Homo sapiens: one gene and its partners. The protein of the gene in region 1 purifies or fractionates together with the protein of each later gene. This does not show direct contact. Each region holds a gene or a part of one and is shown in the gene's direction. Other genes may lie near its edges.

What was found.
Region 2: the proteins of VIP (region 1) and PPP2R2A purify together in Homo sapiens (co-immunoprecipitation; one large-scale study listed by IntAct). This does not show direct contact.
Region 3: the proteins of VIP (region 1) and UBR3 purify together in Homo sapiens (affinity purification with mass spectrometry; one large-scale study listed by BioGRID and IntAct). This does not show direct contact.
Region 4: the proteins of VIP (region 1) and LRP2 purify together in Homo sapiens (affinity purification with mass spectrometry; 2 studies listed by BioGRID and IntAct, with this or other methods). This does not show direct contact.
Region 5: the proteins of VIP (region 1) and NISCH purify together in Homo sapiens (co-immunoprecipitation; one large-scale study listed by IntAct). This does not show direct contact.
Region 6: the proteins of VIP (region 1) and TNRC6C purify together in Homo sapiens (co-immunoprecipitation; one large-scale study listed by IntAct). This does not show direct contact.
Region 7: the proteins of VIP (region 1) and PPP2R2D purify together in Homo sapiens (affinity purification with mass spectrometry; 2 studies listed by BioGRID and IntAct, with this or other methods). This does not show direct contact.

The regions. Positions count from the first base shown.
Region 1 is NC_000006.12:152,753,797-152,757,028, forward strand, and holds part of VIP (VIP peptides isoform 1 preproprotein), read left to right. Parts: intron 1-369; coding exon 370-492; intron 493-1,079; exon of another isoform or gene 1,080-1,472; coding exon 1,473-1,577; exon of another isoform or gene 1,578-2,337; coding exon 2,338-2,469; exon of another isoform or gene 2,470-3,232. UniProt on the Homo sapiens protein: PHM-27 and PHV-42 are two bioactive forms from proteolysis of the same precursor protein, that cause vasodilation. PHM-27 is a potent agonist of the calcitonin receptor CALCR, with similar efficacy as calcitonin.
Region 2 is NC_000008.11:26,354,008-26,357,507, forward strand, and holds part of PPP2R2A (serine/threonine-protein phosphatase 2A 55 kDa regulatory subunit B alpha isoform), read left to right. Parts: intron 1-460; coding exon 461-626; intron 627-3,500. UniProt on the Homo sapiens protein: Substrate-recognition subunit of protein phosphatase 2A (PP2A) that plays a key role in cell cycle by controlling mitosis entry and exit. Involved in chromosome clustering during late mitosis by mediating dephosphorylation of MKI67.
Region 3 is NC_000002.12:169,833,954-169,837,453, forward strand, and holds part of UBR3 (E3 ubiquitin-protein ligase UBR3), read left to right. Parts: intron 1-3,500. UniProt on the Homo sapiens protein: E3 ubiquitin-protein ligase which is a component of the N-end rule pathway. Does not bind to proteins bearing specific N-terminal residues that are destabilizing according to the N-end rule, leading to their ubiquitination and subsequent degradation.
Region 4 is NC_000002.12:169,209,035-169,212,534, reverse strand, and holds part of LRP2 (low-density lipoprotein receptor-related protein 2 precursor), read left to right. Parts: intron 1-327; coding exon 328-567; intron 568-2,893; coding exon 2,894-3,082; intron 3,083-3,500. UniProt on the Homo sapiens protein: Multiligand endocytic receptor. Acts together with CUBN to mediate endocytosis of high-density lipoproteins. Mediates receptor-mediated uptake of polybasic drugs such as aprotinin, aminoglycosides and polymyxin B.
Region 5 is NC_000003.12:52,462,104-52,465,603, forward strand, and holds part of NISCH (nischarin), read left to right. Parts: intron 1-3,500. UniProt on the Homo sapiens protein: Acts either as the functional imidazoline-1 receptor (I1R) candidate or as a membrane-associated mediator of the I1R signaling.
Region 6 is NC_000017.11:78,087,703-78,091,202, forward strand, and holds part of TNRC6C (trinucleotide repeat-containing gene 6C protein), read left to right. Parts: intron 1-3,500. UniProt on the Homo sapiens protein: Plays a role in RNA-mediated gene silencing by micro-RNAs (miRNAs). Required for miRNA-dependent translational repression of complementary mRNAs by argonaute family proteins.
Region 7 is NC_000010.11:131,907,508-131,911,007, forward strand, and holds part of PPP2R2D (serine/threonine-protein phosphatase 2A 55 kDa regulatory subunit B delta isoform), read left to right. Parts: intron 1-3,500. UniProt on the Homo sapiens protein: Substrate-recognition subunit of protein phosphatase 2A (PP2A) that plays a key role in cell cycle by controlling mitosis entry and exit. Involved in chromosome clustering during late mitosis by mediating dephosphorylation of MKI67.

The DNA.
Region 1 (3,232 bases):
TCTATTTTGCATAAAATATTTCTACATACGAAATTTGACTTTGCAAAGTGAAGATATTCTTGGCATAGTAAATTACACCAAAGAAGTATAGTTTGCTTAATGCTCTGATAAGATTGAATTAAGTAGCTCTTGTGTTTTGTATATTCAGCTTATAAAAGTCATATGGCATCTACTTTATAGGATAATAGGAATTTCCTATTTATACTCTCATTAACTATATGAGCCATTAAGTCAAATTATGCTATTCTCATATTATGACTGGGTAATACTTCCCAAGAGTCTAAGTATCTTATTTTAAATGGTTGCGGAACCATACACACTGTCTTCTGAAAAAAGAATGTATTATTCTCGTGTAACTTTCCCCATCAGGTTGGGTGACAGAATACCCTTTGAGGGAGCAAATGAACCTGATCAAGTTTCATTAAAAGAAGACATTGACATGTTGCAAAATGCATTAGCTGAAAATGACACACCCTATTATGATGTATCCAGGTGAGTTTATTTTTATAAAACTATCCAATGAGTTTTATTTTAGAAAATGTGTTTAAGAACTATAAACGTGCTTATTTTATCTCACCATGAAGCTATTCCGATAGCAAAACACTAGAGGTTTCTATGTGTCATGGCTTCATTCATCCTGATTTACTGCAGATCTTACAGCTGTACATAATTTTCATACTGAAAGGTTGTAACAAGCCAGGATGAACACACCATTCACTTCCATTCTGTTGCACATAATTCCAACATCACAGATTGTACCAATTCTGATAAAAGTACAGCATTTAGCATTCCAATGATGGAAGAGTTGCCAAGGAGTTTTGTCTCTATATAAAGAAAAGATACCTGATAGAGCTGTTCATTCATAGAGCTGTTTGTCTAGAGCATCATTTCAAGTACAGACCAAGTAGCTCTATAGTACTTGGTACAGACAAAGTATAAAAGGTGCTTCATTTGAAAGAGAAAAGGTGGGATGATAGGCCTTAATGCCTTCTCTATCTTAAGAGATTTTGTTTCCAAATATTTTGGAAAAAGAAAAAAAAAGGTGTACTGGGGTTTATGAACTTTCCAAAATCAGAATATTTTCCCATTGTGAATGTCTTTATTCAGTGGGGCAGACACAAAGCACCATGTACAAATAGCAGCTAATTTAAATAGATCATATTTTTACACCAATATTTCTTAGAAAGAAATAGTTATAAAGATTCAACCATGGAGGAATATTGAAATGTGCTCCTAGAAATGCCTGTTTCTTTAATTTTTCAGTGTCTTGGGCTAGAAATATAGGGTATATCTTGATATAAGTGACTAGAAGATCTCTTTTGTTAGGGTGTTAAGAAATCTCCTTTTGAACTTTAGTTTTAATGAGAAGCTTTCATAATAAGCCCATAATTTTTTTGTTATTTAATAAGCCATAATAATATTCTAGAAAGCCATTTACAAAATAATAGCTATTTTTTTCTTCCTTGTTTTAGAAATGCCAGGCATGCTGATGGAGTTTTCACCAGTGACTTCAGTAAACTCTTGGGTCAACTTTCTGCCAAAAAGTACCTTGAGTCTCTTATGGGAAAACGTGTTAGGTAAAGAGAATTTATTATTTTTATAAAATATGTTATCATTATTCAATCTGAATATTGTATTTTCACTCTTAACAAGTTATTTACTTTGTTTGAAATTGAAAACTCGTTGATAATGTTTAATTTAGTTAAATGAAATAACTTGTATTCTTCAATAACATCTATCAAGCCCATGGACTAAGACTTTTTCATAATATCATATTCATTGACTCCAGACACACATTTTTCTCAAGTAGCAATCATTTAGCAATCTGCAATCAAATTGAACAAGACTCAGTAAAACAATCAAAAAGAGATAGTACAGACTGAGGTAAATTTTAAGGTCAAACAGAATATTCTTTTTACTTCCTGCTCAAATTAAATGGAGAATTCCAAATGGCCAACAGTCAAATATTTAGATGACGTTGCTCAGGGTAGCATAGCTTCTAAAGAAGTAATTATGTTTTTTTTAAAAAAAAAAAAAATTTCTCCCAATGGCAGAGCACAACTTCAGCTATTCCCAAATTTTTATTTTTGGATGAATTATTTGCTCAGCTGTACAGAATGTGTCATAAAACAGTCCCAGGCCATGCCAAAATATGGCAGATGATTCCTTGCTTTCCTTCATCCTTAGGTTTAGTTGTATTTTTCTTTTAGTCTTTTTATGATAGAAAATTAGTTGGGTGGGAATTGCTTTTTATGTGGCTCCAAGAAACCTGGAACATGTGTGTATTTATCATTTCTTGTGAAAACTCTTTGATTTCCTTTTCCTCATGTTCCTTAGCAGTAACATCTCAGAAGACCCTGTACCAGTCAAACGTCACTCAGATGCAGTCTTCACTGACAACTATACCCGCCTTAGAAAACAAATGGCTGTAAAGAAATATTTGAACTCAATTCTGAATGGAAAGAGGAGGTAAAGAAAAAGAGAACTTGCTAAAATGAGGAATCATGACTGACTTTCAAAATAGAAGCTGCACATGGAGACCTCTCTATCTCACTTATCTAGCTATACTACGTGAAGCAGTGATTTTCAACCTTGGCTGACATTAGACTACCCCGCAGAACTTTAAAAATACAGATGTCTGGGCCTTCTCCCAAACCAATTGCCAGGAAATCGGTGTCTTCGGTGGTGTGGCCCTAGACATACATTTCTTTTAAGAGTTCCCCAGTTGACTTTACTATGCTGCCAGTGTTAAAAATGATGACTATACAGACATCTAGTCTGAATCTAAGAGCAAGTTTCATCAAAAGTGATGATTTTTAAAACATGTAAAGCATAGTCAATTGCAATTTGGTAACACATGGAACTCACTTCGTGTGCATATTCACTACTGTTATTTAATCAAATTAAACCATTAGGTATTTTGTATATTTAGATTCTGTAAAATCTATATCTCTCTATGGTGTGTAAATATTGGACACAATACATAAACAGTGTAGTGTTCTGTCTTTTTATTCCAATTGTTTTTGTTTAAGTGATGAGTATTAAGGATAATTCTGTTTGGGTGTGATCAGACAAGATGACCTCTTTGCCCACTAGATGATAATTCTGTGAGAATAATTTTAGAAACTCTAAGATTGATGAATAATTCATAGGTACTAACAAACCTCAAAGATAATTGTTTAGCCTCCCCATACACTTTCAGAGCACAGAGAACAGCACATTCATTATGTCA
Region 2 (3,500 bases), on another chromosome or scaffold:
GGACAATACATCATATTAAATAACAGATCGGGGAGTTGACCCTAAAGTGGGCATAGGAAGAAGGTGTGCCTCACCTAGCTCTTTCTGGGCAAGACTTTATCATTATTTTTAGATGAACTTCCTTATTATGGGTGCTCAGTTTTTTTTCATCAGTTTTTTTCATAGACTATACCATCAAATACATAAGAGTAAATTAGCAATCAAATTGATCCATATTTAACGTCATTATTTCCCTAATGAATTGAGCTTATTTATTCAGCTTTATTTAGCCTTTTCCCCCGTTAAGTTTTCTCATTTAATCCTTGAAGGCCTTTAGAAATATAAAAAACAGAATGTAATTGTATAAAGACACAACTAATGGGGTATTGAGAATGTGCAGGGTCCTTTGGAATTGATTACATATTTGATTATTTTGAAATATTTTTCAACAATGGTCCATATATTTTTGTTTTCATTTTAGAACAAAATCCAGTCTCATAGCAGAGGAGAATATAATGTTTACAGCACCTTCCAGAGCCATGAACCAGAGTTTGACTACTTGAAAAGTTTAGAAATAGAAGAAAAGATCAACAAAATTAGGTGGTTACCCCAGAAAAATGCTGCTCAGTTTTTATTGTCTACCAATGGTAAGTATACATATTTTCTTTCCATGTGCCCACTGTGTGTACCTGTTGCACATATCCTGTAGCCTAGGAGAGGAATCATTTAACAGAGATACTTGTAAAAAGGACTTTTGTTTTTCTATACAGAATGTAAACTCTACTTTTTTACTGTCACTTGCAGTTTTTAGATTCTCTGAAAGATTCTCTGATAGCAATTTTTTGTTTACTACACCTCCAATTTGTAGTGAAAAGAATGGGCTGCTATACCATTGGATTTAGGTCAGGTAATATTTCTGTCATTTCTCAGTCTCGTAATCTTGGGCAGGTTACTAACACTGAATTGAATTTTCCTCAGCAGCAAACTAGAGATAGCAATTTTTTATTATAGTATTATTATGAATATTAAATAACTTCACATACATCATGAGTGCAAGTGCTCAATAAATGTTAATTTATTCCTCCTTTTTAAGTGTTTGTAAACTACACAGAGTATCTCAAACTGCAGATACAAAATACTCAAAGGATGGTCTCCATTCCAGGATACGCTATAGGAGAGCACTTTCTTACTTGATCACCATTAGCATATTGCCTTCTTCCCAGCAATCCACATGGCTGGAAGGAGATTCCTCTCCTACTGTTTACTTGCCAAGGGAACATTTTTTGTTGTTTTTTGAGACAATGTCTGTCGCCCAGGCTGAAGTGCATTGGTGTAATCACAGCTCACTGCAGCCTCGACCTCCCTACCTCAGTCTCCTGAGTAGCTGGGACCACAGGTGAGTGCCACCACACCCGGCTAATTTTTTAAAAACATTTTTGTAGAGACTGGGTCTCCCTATGTTGCTCAGGCTGGTCTTGAATTCCTGGGCTCAAGCAGTCTGCCCCGCTCAGTCTCCCAAAGTGCTGGGATTACACGTGTGAGCCACTATGCCTGGCCCAGGAAAAGTTGAGTGAGGATTAAAAGTTAGTAATGACAGGCCGGGCGTGGTGGCTCACGCCTGTAATCCCAGCACTTTAGGAGGCTGAGGCGGGTGGATCACGAGGTCAGGAGATTGAGACCATCCTGGCTAACATGGTGAAACCGTGTCTCTACTAAAAATACAAAAAAATTATCCGGGTGTGGTGGCGGGTGCCTGTAGTTCCAGCTACTGGGGCGGGGGTGCTGAGGCAGGAGAATGGGGTGAACCTGGGAGGCAGAGCTTGCAGTGAGCCGAGATCGCGCCATTGCACTCCAGCCTGGGCAACAGAGCGAGACTCGTCTCAAAAAAAAAAAAAAAAAGTTAGTAATGACTCTACCAGAATTTGAAATCCTTTATGATGAGTTGGGTGCTTTCTCTTTGTTCTTATGAAAAACTTTTTCCTGTGAATTGTTTGGACTTTGTTGGGGTCTTGAGTCTAAAGGGAATCATTAGAGTGACTGAGGAGATACTTTAGTTTCTGGGTAGCCGTAGTCTATAAAAATTTGTGATTAAAACTTTTTTGAGGTTGGTGCTAGGGTGAGGGGAACCTCTTATTTTCTCATCCCCTCACTATTAATTTAAAAAGCAAATTCTAACACCTAGACCATAAACATTTGCAGAATATATACTTAAATGACTTCAGGATGAAATGGGGGAAGAAATTCAGCACTTCCTCCATCTAATTGATGCCCCTCGTCCACAGTATTAGTTCTTAGAAATGCTGTTCACAAATGCCTGATGGCCATCAGCGTTGGCCGCCTCCTGGGTGCCCGTTTTTCTGATCATGAAAGCTTTCCCCAGCCAGTCCATTGAGATGCGTACCCTCTGCCTTCTCTGTTTTCACAATAGACTGCATTCCCCTCTCTTGTCCTTATTAGAAGAAAAATAAAGAGAAGTAACTATTTAAAGCCTGTAAATCACAGCACTATGGGTGGAGGGAACAGTTTATTCCTGTCATATGCTAGCTTCTAGTCTTGGGTCAGTTTTAATTTATATGGTAAACTAAGTTATTTCAAATAGCTTCAAATATTTTAGACACTGTTCTTTGGCATCAGATGATACATAATTAAACCATTTATATAATTTCTACTTTTAGAAGTAAATGTTCCTAGGGAAATGTGTTGTTAACATTTTATATATTGGAATATTTTTATGTCAGTTTATTTCTTATAGGGCTACATCAGCTTTCTTATAAAGAGAACTTTTTAAATGTAGGCTGAGTTCAAGAGAATAGTATAGTGAAGCCCTGCATGCTCATCATCCACTTCTGACACTCCTCAGTTCATGGCTAATTTGTGTCTCGGATCCTTCCCCTTCCCCTCCTCCTCAGTGTTATTTCGAAGCAAATCCGATTACAACGTCTATGGATTAAATCTTGTTTAAAGACATTAGAGAATGCATTGTAGATTTTTGTCTTTTGTTTCTTAATACTAAGTAAAATACAGCTAACTGGGGGCTGCATTTTTTAATGCTAAAATAAGTGCTTAATAATAGAGTCCAATGTGGAAGGATAAAGCAGATTATGAGAATCATATGAACTGTTGTGTCTGGGTAGATGGGAAAAGGATGGGAGGAGTAGGACTTGAACTATATCTGAAAAACTATTTGGAAAGAAGGAGACTTAGAGAAAAATGTCAACATCTGTTGATTCTGAGTGATATCTTTTATATTATTTTGTGTATTTTTCTCTGTGAGTTTTTTCTGTGAGCATAGTAACACCCCCCCCCCCCAATATAATGGGTCTATATAAAAACTATATCTGTGGGAGAATGATGGAAAATAGTACCAAACTTTCCAGGTTTGATTAACCAAAATTAATCTTATAAAAATATTTGCATTGGCTTTCCATGATCATTATATGAACTGGGTTTCCCAGATCATTTTTACTTAAAGGACGTCATAGTCACCTTATAACTTGAGTTAATTTAATGTTCCTTCAAGC
Region 3 (3,500 bases), on another chromosome or scaffold:
CTTTTTGTATTTTTTGTAGAGATGGTATTTCACCATGTTGGCCAGGCTGGTCTTGAACTCCTGGCTTCAAGCAGTCTACCTGCCTCAGCCTCCCAAAGAGCTGGGATTATAGGCGTGAGCCACAGTGTGGTGCCTGGCCTGTGTTGTGGGAGGTTTTTAGGTTTTCTGATCTGTGGTAGCCAGAAATTGAACCACGTGAATGTCTGGTTGAATAGTGTTACTCTCTTCAGTAGCTTGCTTTTTTCCCCTTAACATATTTATGGATACTATCTCAAAAGTAGAACTGCTTCATTTTTAAAGTTAAATAGTATTTCATTGTATTTCCATGTTTTTGTAATGTACTATGATTTTTGCGGTCAGTCCCTACTGATAGACATTTAAATTGTTTCCAGACTTGGGCTGTTGTAAACATTGTTGCAGTCAGTATTCTTGTATACACTTGTTCATATGTGTGTGAGCTTATGTATGAGGATACATTCCTAGAAGTTATATCTTGGTTGAAGGAAATTTGCAAATTCAACTTTGATAGAACCCTCCAAAGAAATTAATTTACATTCCTGCCAACAATGTATGAAACAATTTGTTTCCCCATATTCTGGCAGTATATATGGTGGTATCAGTGTTTCTGATCTTTGCTGCTCTCATAAGTGAAAAGTTATATCCCATTTCATCTGTTATCTCCCTGTCCCACTGCTTTTTCGTCCCAGCCAGGACTATTTTGAAGCAAATATCAGATACCTTATAATTTAATTTAAAAATATTTGAGTATGCATCTCAGTAAAGAGATGTGAACTCTAAAACATAACTCAAATGTCCATCAGCAGATGAATGGGTAAGCAATATGTGGAATATACGTACAATGGAATATTTAACCTTAAAAAGTAATAAAATTCTGACACATTAGAATGTTACAATGTAGATAAACCTTGAAGACCTTATGCCAAATGAAATAGGCCCAGCACAAAAGAACAAATGCTTGTATGCTTCGGTCTATATGAAGTGCCCGGAATAGTCAAATTCATACAGACAGAAAGTAGAATAGTGATTATCAGAGGCCAAGGGAAGGGGAGATTGGGGAGTTATTTTTTTAACAGGTACAGAGTTTCAGTTTGGGAAGATGAAAAAGTCCTTGAGATCGATGGTTGTGATGGTTGCAAAACAATGTGAATGTACTTAATGCCACTAAAACTGTACACTTAAGATGTTTTAAATGGTAAATTTTATGTTATTTATATTTTACCACAATTAAAAAATAATGTCAGGTATGGTGGCTCGCACCTGTAGTCCCAGCTACTCCCGAGGCTGAGTTGGGAGTATTGCTTGAGGCTGGGAGTAAGAGGCTGCAGTGGATTATGATCACACCTGGGAATAGTCACTGCACTCCAGCCTCAGCAACATGAAGTGACCTCATCTCTTGAAAAGAAAGCAAAAAACAAACAACTCCCCCAAAACCACAATACCAATACTACACCTAAAATATTCATATTTTGTTTGTTTGTTTGTTTTGATATGGAGTCTCACTCTGTTGCCAGGCTGGAGTGCAGTTGCATGATCTCGGCTCACTGCAACCTCTGCCTCCTGAGTTCAAGCGGTTCTCCTGTCTCAGCCTCCCTAGTAGCAGGGACTACAGGTGCATGCCACCATGCCCAGCTAATTTTTGTATTTTTAGTAGAGGTGGGGTTTCACCATATTGGTCAGGCTGGTCTGGAACTCCTGACCTCAGGCAATCCACCTGCCTTGGCCTCCCAAAGTGCTGGGATTACAGGCGTGAGCCACCGTGCGTGGCCTAATTTTTAAATCATTATAAAACTCAGTTAAAACTATTTTCAATTATGAAACAATTTGAATTTACAGAAAAGTACAAAAGTAGTATAACAGATACCTTTGTACTTACCATTGAGATGAATAGATATTAACCTTTTGCCATGTTTGCTCTAGAGTTGCTTTTAGTCAAAAAACCAAAGAAAGGTCAACCCACCTTTCCCTTTCTCTTTTCCTCTCCAGACGTTAACCATTTTCCTGAAATTCCTGTGTGCACTGTCTCTCTCTCTCTCTCTCTCTCTCTCTCTCTCTCTCTCTCTCTCTCTCTCTATATATATATATATATATATATATTTTTTTTTTTTTTTTTTTTTTTTTTGAGATGGAAACTCGCTCTGTCCCCATCAGACTCAGGCTGGAGTGCAATGGTGCGATCTCGGCTCACTGCAACCTCCGCCTCCTGAGTTCAAGCAATTCTCCTGCCTCAGCCGCCTGAGTAGCTGGGATTACAGGCGGCCGCCACCATGCCTAGCTAATTTTCATATTTTTAGTAGAGATGGGGGTTTCACCATATTGGCCAGGCTGGTCTCGAACTCCTGACCTCCGGTGATCTTCCCGCCTCAGCCTCCCAGAGTGCTGGAATTACAGGCATGGGCTACCACGCCTGGCCCCACCAGGAATTTGAGGTCTTGTTTTTCTGCTTATTGAAACTTGGTGTTAATGAGAACACATGGACACCACGAAGGGAACAACACACACAGGGGCCTGTTGGGTCGGGGGCAGGGAGAGGGAGAGCATCAGAAAAAATAGCTAATGCATGCTGGGCTTCATACCTAGTTGATGAGTTGATAGGTGCAGCAAACCACCACAGCAACCATTTACCTATGTAACCTGTACATCCTGCACATGTAATTCAGAACTTAAAAAAAAAAAAACCAAAAGACACTTGGTGTTATATATATAAATTTATAATATTTTACCAATCTGTTGGATACAAACATCTTTTTAAAATTTATATTTTCTTGACTAGTAAAGTTGAACATCTTTTCATATGTTTTGGGGCCATTTGGGCTTCTTTCTTGGTGAACTGCTGGTTCATATTATTTGCCTGTTTTGTTTTTCTGTTTTACTGAGTTTTAAGAATGCTGTACATACTCTAGATGCTGATCCTTTGTTGTATAAATACTTAATTTCATCTTCTAGTTTGTGTCTTGTCTTTTTACCTTGAAATATATAATTTTGTTGTAAACGATTTTAAATTAAAAATGTAGTTTTTCTTCTACAGTTTGTATTATTTGTATCTTGTTAAAGAAATCTTCTTCACCTTGGTTTAAAAAAATGCTTATATGTTTTCTACTGAAAGATTTAAGGTTTTTCATTGTACACTTAGGTCTTTTGTCCATCTGGAATTTATTTTTACATGTAGTATGAGATTGAGGTCTGTATTAGTCTGTTTTCGCACTGCTATAAAGAACTGCCTGAACGGGCCCGGAGGCTCACGCCTGTAATCCCAGCACTTTGGGAAGCCGAGGCAGGTGAATCACCTGAGGTCGGGAGTTCGAGACCAGCCTGACCAACATGGAGAAACCCCATCTCTACTAAAAATACAAAATTAGCCGGGTGTGGTGGCGTGTGGCTGTAATCCCAGCTTCTCGGGAGGCTGAGGCAAGAGAATTGCTTGAACCTGGGAGGCAGAGGTTGCGGTGAGCCGCGATCACGCCATTGCACTCCAGCCTGGG
Region 4 (3,500 bases), on another chromosome or scaffold:
CATATTATTTTAAGTGCCAGTTCATAGGCAAATTATGAGCAGATTTATATACTGACCTCCCTAATCCTCGCATGATTTGTAGAAGAAAACAAGTGAAGCCCCATTCTCTAACTATTATACAATAGTTGGGTTACTGGTTTCATACCTTTAGGTGTTATTGTATAAGCTCTAGTCTCTCCGATGTTGTTTTTAGATTGCTAACTCAGCTACTATATGTTGGTTATTAATTTTTAGAATAAATTATTTGGTGACCCAATTAAAGAAATTTGAGATGGGGTGGCGAGTAGCTAGGATCAAAAGTTACAAATGGATTTTGTTTTCATTTAGATGCCGCCGAATCCTCAAATGGCTGTAGCAACAACATGAATGCCTGTCAGCAGATTTGCCTGCCTGTACCAGGAGGATTGTTTTCCTGCGCCTGTGCCACTGGATTTAAACTCAATCCTGATAATCGGTCCTGCTCTCCATATAACTCTTTCATTGTTGTTTCAATGCTGTCTGCAATCAGAGGCTTTAGCTTGGAATTGTCAGATCATTCAGAAACCATGGTGCCGGTGGCAGGCCAAGGTATGCCAACTCCAATATAAGTAAGATTTGACTTCATCTGGCACCAGGTTGAAATCCCTGGTGCCATGAAAACATTTCTTCATGTGTGGATTCAGTGCATAATGAAGCTTTCCTTTCCCTTTAAATCAACTGGCACAGCCTAAAGTGTTTTTCAAACTTTAGTGTGTCTCAGAATCACCTGGAGGGCTCACGCCAACACAGCTCCAGACCTCGTCCCCAGATTTTTCTGATTTTGTAGTCTAGGGTAGGGCCAGAGAATCTGCACTCCTAATAAGCTCCCAGGGCATGCTGACGGTGCTGGCCCATGGATCACGCTAAGAACCACAGGCCCAGAGCAATATAGAATGTAGGATGGGTTTGCAAGAAGTACTACAGAGTTGGTGTTCCAAAGAACTGTGCCCTATTTCTGATTATTAATGGAGATTTATGGTAGAAGGTATACTACTATTTAATATGGTAATGAAATAGTCCACAAATATGATTTATTAATATATATTTGGTGAATTGAAGCAAAAGAGTTCACAGTGTCAGTCCCTCTTTAGTAATCATATTTTTGCAGCACTTTGTGCTTACATACTGTGAATGTATGAAACGATCACTTGCTTCCTAGATGAGCCAAGGTTTTTAGGTATACCTTAGCACAAGAGGAACTAAGAGTTTTCTAACATCGCTAGGAGAATGTCACAGGCTAAAGAGAGAAATAGAGGGTAGAAAGGAAGGAAAAAAGGATGAAGTCAATGAAGGGGTTGTAGAGATGGTCAGAAAATACAGAAATGCACCTGGAGAAGGGAATCAGAGAGCTTCCAGTCCCACACGTCCTCCTGCCTGATGGTCATGTTCACGTGGACCCATGACTCATCTTTGTTTTTCCATATCTAAAAAGTTATGGATCTAAGTTATCATCTTGTACAGATATGACAAATTCAATAGTTTTTTTCTCCCAGCTTTTCATTAAAAAAATGTTCAAACACAGAAACGTTGAAAGATTTAGGAAATATCCTTATACCCTTTACCAAGATTTAACAGTTGTTAACATTTCTTCACATTTGAGCTCTCAATTTGTATGTGTGTGTGTGTACATGCATATGCATTCACATTCATTTTTTATGAACCTTTTAAAAATAAATTTTAATACCATGCCACTTTACCCCTACATATGTTAGCATACAGTTTCAAAGGGCATTATGAAATATTCATAATCATATTTCTCCAGTTGGCCTCACAATATTTTATATATAGCTGTTTTGTTCCATCCAAGATCTAATCAAGATTCATGCACTGCACTGGGAATATCTCATTAGTTTCTTCCAGTTTGGAGTAGTTGCCTCTAGCTTTTTGCTATGACATTGATGTTTTAAAGAGGCAGACCTGTTGTCTTTGAGAATCCCACACTGAGGATTTGTCTGAATATTTAGTCTGTCTTTCATTTTTTACCCTGCAGTTCTCATGAAATGGAAGTTAGGTCTAATTGCTTGATTAGATCAAGGTTAAATACATTTAGCAATAATACTTTATAGGTTATGCTGTGTTAGTTGATACAGAATCTTATTAGGAAGAACATAATGTCAGCTTGCCCTGCTCTTAGTGGCATTTGAGTTTGATCACTTGGTTAAGGTGGTCACTGCTACACTGCTGCTTTTTAAAGCTGTATTTTTTTTCCTTCTTAATTTTGGTGGAATCTATGCAATCACACTTAGGCCCTGTGAATGTCTTGGCTCCCAAGCACCTTTTACCCATTGGTTTTGGCAGCCATGGATGATCCTTGTTTGAAATGATTATTTAATCGAGGATTGCAAAATGGTGATTTTCTTATTTTAGCATTCCCTTTACATTTGTTAGATAATATTCTTCTATAAAGGAAAGCTCTTCGTGTCTCCCCGGTTTACTTTTTAAATAATTTATTATTATTATGGGCTCAAATTTTTATTTTTTAAATTCAGTGTGTTACAGTCAATTACTGTAATCCTTCTTTTGATGTTTTAGTGGATCCATTTTGGCCAGGGAGAACCTCTTCAAGTGGCGACCTGTATATTTCTGTGTATGCCTTGTTTCTTGGTACAATAAGATGTTTCACACTCACTTCGTACCTTCCCTGCCTAAACCTATAATCAACATTTCTCCCGGGAGCCAGAGCTCCTTATTGTGGGAAAGAGTAGAAACCAAGATGTGGGTCTGCTCACTGCAACTGGGAAAAAAGGGTTTCATTTTGTAATGGGGAGATGCTCAGAGCAGGGGGTTGGGAATGAGGGTTTGAGAGGAAGGGCAGACATTTAAAAGTTCTAATTTCAGTGACAGCATTTTTTAATGATCTTTTCTTAACTTCCAGGACGAAACGCACTGCATGTGGATGTGGATGTGTCCTCTGGCTTTATTTATTGGTGTGATTTTAGCAGCTCAGTGGCATCTGATAATGCGATCCGTAGAATTAAACCAGATGGATCTTCTCTGATGAACATTGTGACACATGGAATAGGAGAAAATGGAGTCCGGGGTATTGCAGTGGATTGGGTAGCAGGTATGTAAGCTATATGGTGATTTTAATATGTTTGCATCTCTGTCATCTTATTTTATGCTAGAAAGTTTAGCCTAACTCCATGTGCTACAGGTTTGTTTTTCTAGACAATTATTAAGACCATTTAAGATACATTGAATCTAGATTAAGCTACGTGTCTATTTGATAAATGATACGGTGTTTCAGTTTACAGATTTATAACAAATTAATCCTTATCATTTTCTTCTGTTATTAACATAATCTGGAGACAAAAGTGGCTAAAATATTAAATTATGTGGATTTGTTTTTTTTACACTTAGATTTGCACCTGATTTCTGCATTAGAAATTTTCTAAATTTTCAAGAGAAAGAGATATAAAAATATAAACTATGGAACAGCATTCATTTGCTTTGAAGCTGAGCAATTTTAGTTGCCAAATTCT
Region 5 (3,500 bases), on another chromosome or scaffold:
TTTGAGGCAGGCTCCGCTACTTGTAGAAGTTTTGACATATTTGGAATTAGTATTATCAAACAGGTCCCTAGGTTATATAAATCCTAGGATTTAAAAAAGCAATTGAACCCATCGTTGGATTAAACCCACAGTTGATCAGCCATAGCACTGTTGACATTTTGGACTGGATAATTTGTTTCTGTAAGGAGCTGTCCCATGCATTGTTTAGCAGCACCCTGGCTTCTACCCACTGGATGCCAGTAGCACTTCCCCACCCAGCTATGGCAACTAAAGATGTCTCCAGACATTGCCAAATGTCCCACTGGGGGGCAAAATTGCCCCCCACTTGAAAACCACTGGATTAGATCTTCATTTGGGGCCTAAAGATTTGTCAGCCTTTTCTCCAGGCTGGGAGCTCTCTGGGGAATGTTTCTCTTAACTTTTATACTGTCTGTATCCTCTCTGAAATTGTTCCACATGTGTTCTGCCTCTTGTGTTGCTGACATTGGATAGGGTGGACCCAGGGAACCCTATTTGGCTATGGTGTGAATTTTTTTATTTTTATTTTTTGAGACGGAGTTTCGTTCTTACTGGCCAGGCTGGAGTGCAGTGGTACGATCTCGGCTCACTGCAACCTCCACCTCCCAGGTTCAAGTGATTCTCCTGCCTCAGCCTCCCGAGTAGCTGGGATTACAGATGGCCCGCCACCACACCCAGCTAATTTTTTGTATTTTTAGTAGAGACGGGGTTTCACTATGTTGGTGAGGCTGGTCTCAAACGCTTGACCTCGTGATCCACCTGCCTCAGCCTCCCAAAGTGCTGGGATTACAGGCATGAGCCACCACGCCTGGCCATGGTGTGGATTTTTAAAAATTGAGATATAATTTACATACCATAAAATTAACTTTTTAATGTGTACAATTCAGTAGTTTTTAGTATATTCACAAAGTTGAGCGACCATCACCACTATCTAATTCCAGAACATTTCATCAGCCCAAAAAGGAACCTGTACCTGTTAGCAGGAGCTTCCCATCCCTCTGTCCCCCAGCCCCTGGCAGTCACTAATCTACTTTCTGTCCTTATGGATTTGCCTGTTCTGGACATTTCATATAAATAGAATCATACAGTGTGTGGCCTTTTGTGACTGGCTTCTTTCATTTAGCCTTATCTTTTCAAGGTCCGTTCATATTGTAGCATGAATCCATTGGTCCTTTTATGACGGAGTAATAGTGTATTATTTGGATATGCCACATTATGTTTATTTATTAGCAGTTGATGGATGTTAGGTTTGTTTCCATTTTTGGCCATTGCAAATGATGCTGCTATGAGCATTTGTATGTTAATTTTTGTGTGAACTTATGTTTTCATTTTTGTTGGATATATAGCCAAAAGTGGAACCTGAGTTATATGGTAACTATGTTTGACTTTTTGAGAAACTAACAAATTGTTCTCCACAGTTGTTGCACCATTTGACGTTTCCATCGGCAGTGTATAGGTTCTAATTTCCCCACATTCTTGCTTAACACTTCTTGTCCATTTTTTTTTAAATCTTAGTTGTTCTGGTGGGTGTGAAGTGGTATCTCATTGTGGTTTTAATTTACATTTCCCTAATGACTAATGTTATTGAACCTCTTTTTTTTTTTTTTTTTTTTTTTTTCTGAGACAGAGTCTCGCTCTGTCGCACAGGCTGGGGTGCAGGCATGTGATCCCGGCTCACTGCAACCTCTGTCTCCTGGGTTCAAGCGATTCTCGTGCCTCAGCCTCCCGAGTAGCTGGGACTACAGGCGTGCACCACCACGCCTGGCTAATTTTTGTATTTTTTTCATTAGAGACGGGGTTTCACCATGTCGGCCAGGATGGTCTCGAACTTCTGGCCTCAAGTGATTCGCCCACCTTGGCCTCCCAAAGTGCTGAGATTACAGGTGTGAGCCACCACACCTGGCCTGAGCCTCTTTTCATATGATATTTGGCCATTTGTGTATTTTCTTTGGAGAAAAGTATCCAATTCTTTGTCTTTTTAAAAATCAGATTGGGCCGGGCGCGGGTGGCTCATGCCTGTAATCCCAGCACTTTGGAAGGCTGAGGTGGGCGGATCACTTGAGGCCTGGAGTTCGAGACCAGCCTGGCCAACATGGAGAAACCCTGTCTCTACTAAAAATACAGAAATTAGCCGGGCATGGTGGTGTGTGCCTGTAATCTCAGCTCCTCGGGAGGCTGACGCACAAGAATGGCTTAAATCTGAGAGGCGAAGATTGCAATGAGTGAGACCACACCACTGCACTCCAGCCTGGGTGACAGAGTAAGACTGTCTAAAAAAACAAAAAAAACAAAAAAAACAGATTATCTTTGTTGTTGAGTTGTAAGAGTTCTTTATATATTCTGGCTACTAGACTTTTAGAAACATGCAAATACTTTTTCACATTCTGTGAGTTGTCTTTTTTTTTTTTTTTTTTTTTTTTTGAGACAGATTCTTGCTCTGTTGCCCAAGCTGGAGTATAGTGGCGTGATCTCGACTCACTGCAACCTCCACCCCTGGGGTTCAAGCGATTCTCGTGCCTCGGCCTCCCAAGTAGCTGGGACTACAGGCGTACGCAACCACGTCTGGCTGATTTTTGTATTTTTAGTAGAGATGGGGTTTTACCATGTTGGCCAGGCTGGTCTTGAACTCCTGACCTTAGGTGATACACCTGTCTCAGCCTCCCAAAGTGCCGGCATTACAGCCTGAGCCACCACATCCGGCCTGCCCAGCTAATTTTTCTATTTTTAGTAGAGACAGGGTTTTACTATGTTGGCCAGGCTGGTCTCGAACTCCTGACCTTAGGTGATCCACCTGCCTCAGCCTCCCAAATTGATGGGATAACAGGCGTAAGCCACCATGCCCGGCCATCTTTTCATTTTCTTGATGGTCTTCATTGAAGCACAAAAGATTTAGATTTTGATTAAGTTCAATTTATCAATTTCTTTGGTCACTTGTGTTTTGGTATCATACATGAGAAACCATTGCCCAATCCAAGGTCACAAAGATTTATAACAATATATTCCTGTATGGATTTTGTTTGTTTTTTGAGACAGGGTCTTGCTCTATTGCCTAGGCTGGAGTGCAGTGGCACCATCTCGGCTCACTGCAGCCTCAACCTCCCAGGCTCAAGCACTCCTCCCACCTCAACCCCCCAAGTAGCTGGGACTACAGGCATATGCCACCGTACTTGGCTAATTTTTGTACTTTTTGTGGAGATGGGGTTTCTCCATGTTGCCCAGGCTGGTCTCGAACTCCTGGGCTCAAGTGATCCACCCACCTCGGCCTCCCAAAGCGCTCGGTTTACAGGCGTGAGCCACCACACCCAGCCTGCAGTGTGGATTTTAATAACAAGGAAAGAAAGCACTACTTGTTTACCAGCCCACTTTAGGTGGGAGCGCAGGGGTTGCCGCCTGTATGAGTGAGGGGCACACTGTGGCACTGGCCTGTTGCTATGCTGCTCTTCAGATTGCTGTGTCCTGACCCTCCTGGACGCGTGGTGACA
Region 6 (3,500 bases), on another chromosome or scaffold:
TGGTTGTTGATACAACTCATTTTGTATGAAATGTGATTTGTATAATCGACCAAATCAACATATATATGTTGAAATCTAACTTGTAGAAGCACACTCAGCACTTGAAACCCGCAGGTCAGTAGAAGACATGGTGCCAGGCCTCGAGGTCAGGCCAGTCAGGAGAGACACAGCTCACATACCTGAAGACACCAGAGGGTATAAATTAGTAAATTGATTCTGCATGGACTAATTTGCCGTAAGAATTCAGAAGTTAGTGAAAGCACTTTAGGCTTGTCTGTTGATTGCTATTAGAGTCTGTAGATACAGGACAAAGGGTTATCGGTAACTTGGAAAATACATCTGTAAAGGGGCAAAGGCCAGTTGAGTGGTAGTGAATTTGCTGCCAGCAGATAATATTCATTTATCTAATTCTATTCAATGTCTCTGAAAAGAGCGGTATATTGTAATCATATGAATCCTTTTTACTTGACATATTATAAATGTGGTATATCTTTAATATGAGATTGATAAATACTAGACTAGATGATCTCGTTCCTTAATTATTGTCTCATCCATTAGAGCCCTTTGTGTCGAAGTAGGTAAGACCTGACTTAGGAATTAGACTCCCTAGGTTTGAGTCCCAACTCACCACCAAGAGGCTCACTACTAACTTGGGCAACTTGCCTAGCTGCTGTTTGCTTCAATTTCTTTATTTTTCTTTCTTTTTTTTTTGGTAGAGACAGGGTCTTTCTATGTTGCCCAGGCAAGTCTCAAAACTCCTGGCCTCAAGTGATCCTCCCTAAGTGTTAGGATTACAGGCCTGAGACACCATACTGAGCCATGCCTTAATTTCTTCATCTGTAATGTGGAAATACTTAACTCCTAGGTTTGTTTTAAAGATTAAATGAGCTAATATGTAAAGTTCTCTTTTTTCTTTTTTTTTTCTCTCTCTTTTTTTTTTTGGCTGGAGTGCAGTGGCGTGATCATAGCTCATTGCAGCCTCAAACTCCTGGCCTTAAGTGATCCTGCTGGTCTCAGCTTCCCAAAGTGCTGTGATTACAGGCATGAGCCATCACACCTGGCCTAATATGTAAAGTTCTTAAATAGTGCCTAGCACATAGCAAACACTTTGTAAAATGTCAGCTACTTATGTAAGTGCTTCTGTTTTAGAAACAAATTTCATCCCACCTATTATCCTAAAATGCATTAGCTTCAGCTTTCTATTATTCACCTGTCTTCTTAACCTATATTTGGAGGATAAAGTACACTTATCGTTACTTTTTTTTTTTTTTTTTTTTTTTTTTGAGATAGAGTCTTGCTCTGTTGCCCAGGCTGGAGTGCGATGGCGCAGTCTCGGCTCACTGCAACCTCCACCTTCTGGATTCAAGCAATTCTCCTGCCTCAGCCTCCCAAATTGATGGGATTACAGGCATGCATCACCACGCCTGGCTAATTTTTGTATTTTTAGTAGAGACTGGGTTTCACCATGTTGGCCAGGCTGGTCTCAAACTCCTGACCTCAAGTGATCCGCTCACCTAAGCCTCCCAAAGTGTTGGGATTACAGGCGTGAGCCACCGTGCCCGACCACTTATCTTTACTCTTAAGGATTTTTTCTCTTAGTACAAGTTAAAGAATTCATGCAGTGAATCTTTGAAATTAGTTGAAAAATAATTTGGATAATATTTTATAATATTCACAGTAAAGTTATAAATGTATTAAAAGCAAATAACTAATAAAGTCTAGGAAACTTTGGTTGTAAAATTGCCTATCTTGTTGGCTCTCAGCATTTCTCTGCAGCAGCACCTATGTTGAAGAGCCTGTTAGACACTCATCAATTCATGTAAAGAAACCAGCAGCCCATGGTCAGTAGTGGGGGCTCCTAGCTACCTTCCTTCCCTCATGTTCAGCCTGTCGTTGTTATTCTCAGTCTTTTGCCACCTGGAGTTCGCCATCTAGATAGGAAGAGCAGGCATATAAATGGGAAAAAATAACCTTGATACCAGTGTCATGTGATTCTTACAGGGCTCTAGAGAAGGAAAAGTTCACTTTCACTTTGAGTGGTGAAAGAAAAATCAGAGAGTAGGATTAAGCTTGAACCTCAAATGATTGGATAGGATTACAGTAAATAAAGAGGAAGCCTTTCCAAATAAAGGGGAAGCCTCACGTAGCACAGAAGAAAGAGGCCTGGCTTGTTTCAGGGGCCCATTTTGCAAGGGCCAGGCCAGTCTAGCTGACTTTCCCAGAGGGGAAAGTTGGGAGAGATGGGTTGGCGCCAAATTGTGAAATTTGGAGCATTCTGAAGGCCAGGTTGAAGCCCTGACATTGTTGCCACCTTACCTGGCTAGATCTGTACAAGCTGAAACGAAAAGAACCCACACAGCAGAGATTGCAAGTAGGCAGCCCTGTGGCACTGATGGGCTTGCAAAGGCGTTTTGTTAGGTCTGCGAAGTGTGTGTGTGCATGTGCATAGGTGTGTGTTAATGCCAACATTCAAAAATTGGGGAAAGTGGCTTCTGGCTTCTCTTAAAAATGGCTATAGTGGGTCTATGTTCCAGGTAGCAATAGGTGGTTGGCCCCAGTAGCACCTGTTTATTTAGACAGGACAGACACTCTCTGGTTTGCCACAGTCCCCATGAAGCCCACTTCTTCATGTGCATGGCCCACCTGGCTCCTATGGGCATTTGAATTTGCAGCCTCTGAAATAAAGGTAAGAACCAGAATGTTCAGCACCTGGCTAAGTAGTAGAGGCTCACTGTGCTTACGTACCGTGTGGCGTAGTACTTACGGTAAGGACCTATGGGGTATGTGTATGTGGTAAGGGGAACTGCAGCTGGAAATACAAGGGGAGGGGGGCGCTTGTGCTGGTTATTCCCTTCCAAACAAGCAGTCTGTCCTGCTCCAAACTAGTGTCCTCATCAGAAACTCTTTACTTCAACCTTCTTTTCATTGTCCTCCTCATCATCTTTCTTTATTAACCTAGCTTAGTGCAGGTCCTGGACAAATAACCAGGTACCTGCTTTTAGCTATAAGGAATGAGCCCAGAAGCCTCAGCTCACCATCCCAGCTGGGGGCAGATGGCAGCACCCCCGCTGTCAAATAGTTCAGTTCCTTAAAAGTAGTTTGATACTTAATTCACAGACTCTTTCAGAGCAGACTTTTGTAAAGGAAACTCACTAAAGGTAGAACTGAATTATCCTATCAGTCTGTTTCATAGGTGGTACTTTAGAGTTCTGGAAAAGTGTTTTTGACCTGATGAGTTTCCGTAAGATATCCCAAAACAAAGAAAGATTTTCCTAATAGTTTGGACTTTTTCTATTTTCCTGTGGACTCTGAGAAGCCTCAGGACCATGTTTATTCAGCACTGAAACAAGTAAAATGAAGAGAATTGTGGGCCTTACTTAATCAAAGACTATTCACATTTTCACCTTAATTTAGGAATAATATTCCTAGAAATACATGTTGTTATGACGATAAGTAGTATTTTTTCACCAGCACTAAAAGTTATAGTTAAAATATTTTGC
Region 7 (3,500 bases), on another chromosome or scaffold:
AGGCGGGCGGATCACGAGGTCAGGAGATCGAGACCATCCTGGCTAACAGGGTGAAACCCCGTCTCTACTAAAAAAAATACAAAAAATCAGCTGGGTGTGGTCGCGGGCACCTGTAGTCCCAGCTACTGGGGAGGCTGAGGCAGGAGAATGGCATGAACCCAGGAGGCGGAGCTTGCAGTGAGCGGAGATCACGCCACTGCACCTCCAGCCTGGGCAGCAGAGCGAGACTCCATATCAAAAAAAAAAAAAAAAGATTCACAGACTCATCATGCTTAGTACAGCCACATCTTAACGCTCAGGAGGCTGGCCTGGTCATCGTTACATCGTGAAGTTAAGTTTACAAGATATGTGGTGGTATTGAATCATACCTGGTGATTTTCCACGTTCCCTGATTTTAAGCAGTCTGCTGTTCTGATGGGAAGTTCCAGGTTGGGTTTGTGTCTGCTGTTTTCAACTCTGAGGGCCCCTTTCTGAGCTTCAGCTCGCTTATCTAGAAGTTAAATCAGAAGCTTTTTGTTAAGATCAAACAATGTGCAGTGCTGTTGCAACTTGAAAAGTGCTTTTCAAGTATTAGATACAACTGTTAATTCTCTTGTATTTTAAAGTATTGGGGCTTGGTTTTAGCTATATTTAAACACAAAAATAGCAGTTTCTTGTTTTTCCTTACCTGCTTCATGTCCATCTACCCAGATCCCTTCCACTGGGCCTGGCCTCTTAATGTTTACGTTATTATTCAGTGATTATTCCCATCCCTTGATCTTTGCTCCTGTTTCTTTCTTTGCCTAGAGTATTTATTTTGCTTCCTGTCCATTCCCTAAGCCCTGCTGATCCTTCTAAATCCACCTCCAATCCCACTTGGCGAGTCCCTGCTCCAGCTCCCCTCAGCGTTCAGTGTCGTCTTAGACTCCAGATTTCCCTTTCACACTGTGTTCCATGTTGTTTAGCAATTGGCTGTGTCCTGCTTGTGGTTCCCTTATTTTATCACATGTATTATTAGGCTCGTCTCTCCCACTGGATGTCAGTCAGCATATGGAATGTCATGATATTACCAGGTGATGGAGAGGAATTGTGCACGTGGAATTTGGTACACATCCCTTTTTCACCCTCTTCAGGCTTTGTGTTAACTTGGGAAGTTACTTACTCTTTTCTCATCTGTTAAACGGGTACTATTACTTGTGACCATTACAGGGTTGCTGTGAAGATTCCAGAAAATGTATGGAAAGCTCTGACAAACAAACACGTTAACTGGTAACTGTTCAGAGGCTGTTGTCTTAAGAGACCCTCTTGCATAGGAAAATAGCTGACTCTGTCACTTCAGGGAGCCAGTTTAAGAAAAATGAAGGGTAATGCAGGGGCCAGCTTTCAGCTTGGCACATCTGAAAAGTTCACGACAGCATACCAAAGGGCTGCTAGTGCTGGCTGTTGGAAATAGAAATGCAGTTCTTGCCTTCAGGAAACGCTGTTTGGACACAGACAAGCAGGTGGGTCCTTGCACCATGGCTGGACCAGAGCACACTGAGGCAATGTGAAGAAGTACCCAGTACACAGACTTGGGTAGGGAGTGGAGGGGAGGACATCAGGGTATAAGAAGAGGGAGGAAGGGAAGGGGAGGAGAATGTTCCAGGTGGAGAGTGCTTGGTGTGGAGGTTGGACAGAGCATGGTATGTTCTGAGAGGTCAGTGCTTGGCATGGTCCTCTGGCAGAAAAGGGAGTGGCTGTGATGAGCAGGAGGCTGGCTGGGGCCACAGGATGATGAATAAAGGACTTGAATCGTGTGCTCAGGACTCTGAGTGATTGTGAGCTTTTCAGATCCTAAGCGGAGGAGCGACATCAGCTTTGTTTTTAACAAGGTCACTCTGCCCTTTGGAGAGTGGATGGTGGTGGGTAAGAATGGAGATAGGAAGTTACTGCAATAATAAAGATTGGGAAAATGGGCTTACTCTAGTTTCGGGGTGGCCAAGCTTTTTTGTAAAGGGCCAAATGGTAAGTATCTTAGACTTTCAGGCCATCCTGTCCCTGTTGCAACGACTGAATTCAACTCTGCCTTTAGCAGGAAGACAGCCATAGACCCTGCAGAGATGGATGGGCGTGGCTCTGTGCCCTGCTTCCACAGGAGCATGCCTACAGAAAACAGGCAGCTGGCCAGATGTCGCCCAGGTTGTGGTTTGCTAAACCCTGACCTAGAGTTGGTTTGCAAAGTCTTTTGGTGCTGGAATAATTTTATACTCTTAATAGTTATATTGAGGATCCAGAGAGCCTTTGTTTGTGCTGGTTATCGCTGTTGATGTTTTCTATATTTGAAATTAAAACAGAACAACTTACAATATTTATTTTACTTTAAAAGAATCTACTACATGTTAACATAACCTTTTTAATGAGAAACAACTTTTCAAAAACAAAAAGATTAAGCAAGAAGAACAGTGTTGTTTTACACTTTTGCACATCCTTTTAAAATATGAGGTTTAAGAGGTGACGGCTGGATTCTCAGACCTGCTTCTGCATTCCGTGTGTTCCAGTTGCTTTATTGAAATGTGTAAGGAAAATGTGGCGTCACACTTCCATGTGGGCAGAAGAGGGGTCATCCTGGAGGCTCTTAGCGATGCACCATAACTCGCCAGGTGGCAGCGTGTTTGAGTGTGCCGGCCTTTCGGAGTCAGTGACGTTTCTGTACTCTCTTCCGTCAGAACCCTGAGGTCTGTCTTGTGCTCAGAGTGGGTCTTTTGCTCATGGACATGATTTGGTAACATCACACGGGGGTTGTTTGGAAATATTGTTACATGGAGTTGTTTTTTTTTCTAAATGTTAACACATTCCATTATGTAAACTTGAAGAAAATCCTATTTTTTAATGTCATCACTGATCTCATCAGAAGAAAAAGTGAGAAACTGTCAAATTAGCAGTAGTAGAGAAAAGTTTTCCAAAATTCTAATTTTCTCTTGAAAGCTTGGATTTTATCATTGGTAACAAATACTGTCAGTTACTTTCTGTGAAGTGAGGGACGCAGTGTGTTCATTTTCAAGTCAATTTCTGCCAGATACCAAATTCTTAATAACCAAAGTTGGTCAGTTGTTCTTTCAAATAAAAATGGCATTCCATGAAAAAAAGGGCTAGTTCAGCTTGTGTGATACTGTGGAATATGTATTTGGTCTTCCCTAGTACACAACTCCTAAAATCCTCGGGCTCGTCAGTGATGTCTTCGTAATGCGTTGGCTAAGGGCCGGCAACCCCTGGGTAGCTTCAGAACAGGGGCTGGTCACCAGAAAGACCTAGGCAGGATTAGAAGGTTGGGACTTTCAGCCCCGATCCCCAACCTCGGGGAGTGGTGAGGGGTGGGGGAGCTGAAGGTTAAGCTGATCACCAGTGGCCAAACAGTCTTGCCTATGTATGGACTGGGTTTGAAGATAGCTTCCAGATGTTTCTGGAGGGGGGCCCACCCAGAGAGGACACGGGAGCTCTGTGTCTCAGCCCCCGTCCCTCGCCCTGTGCATCACCTCAGTGTC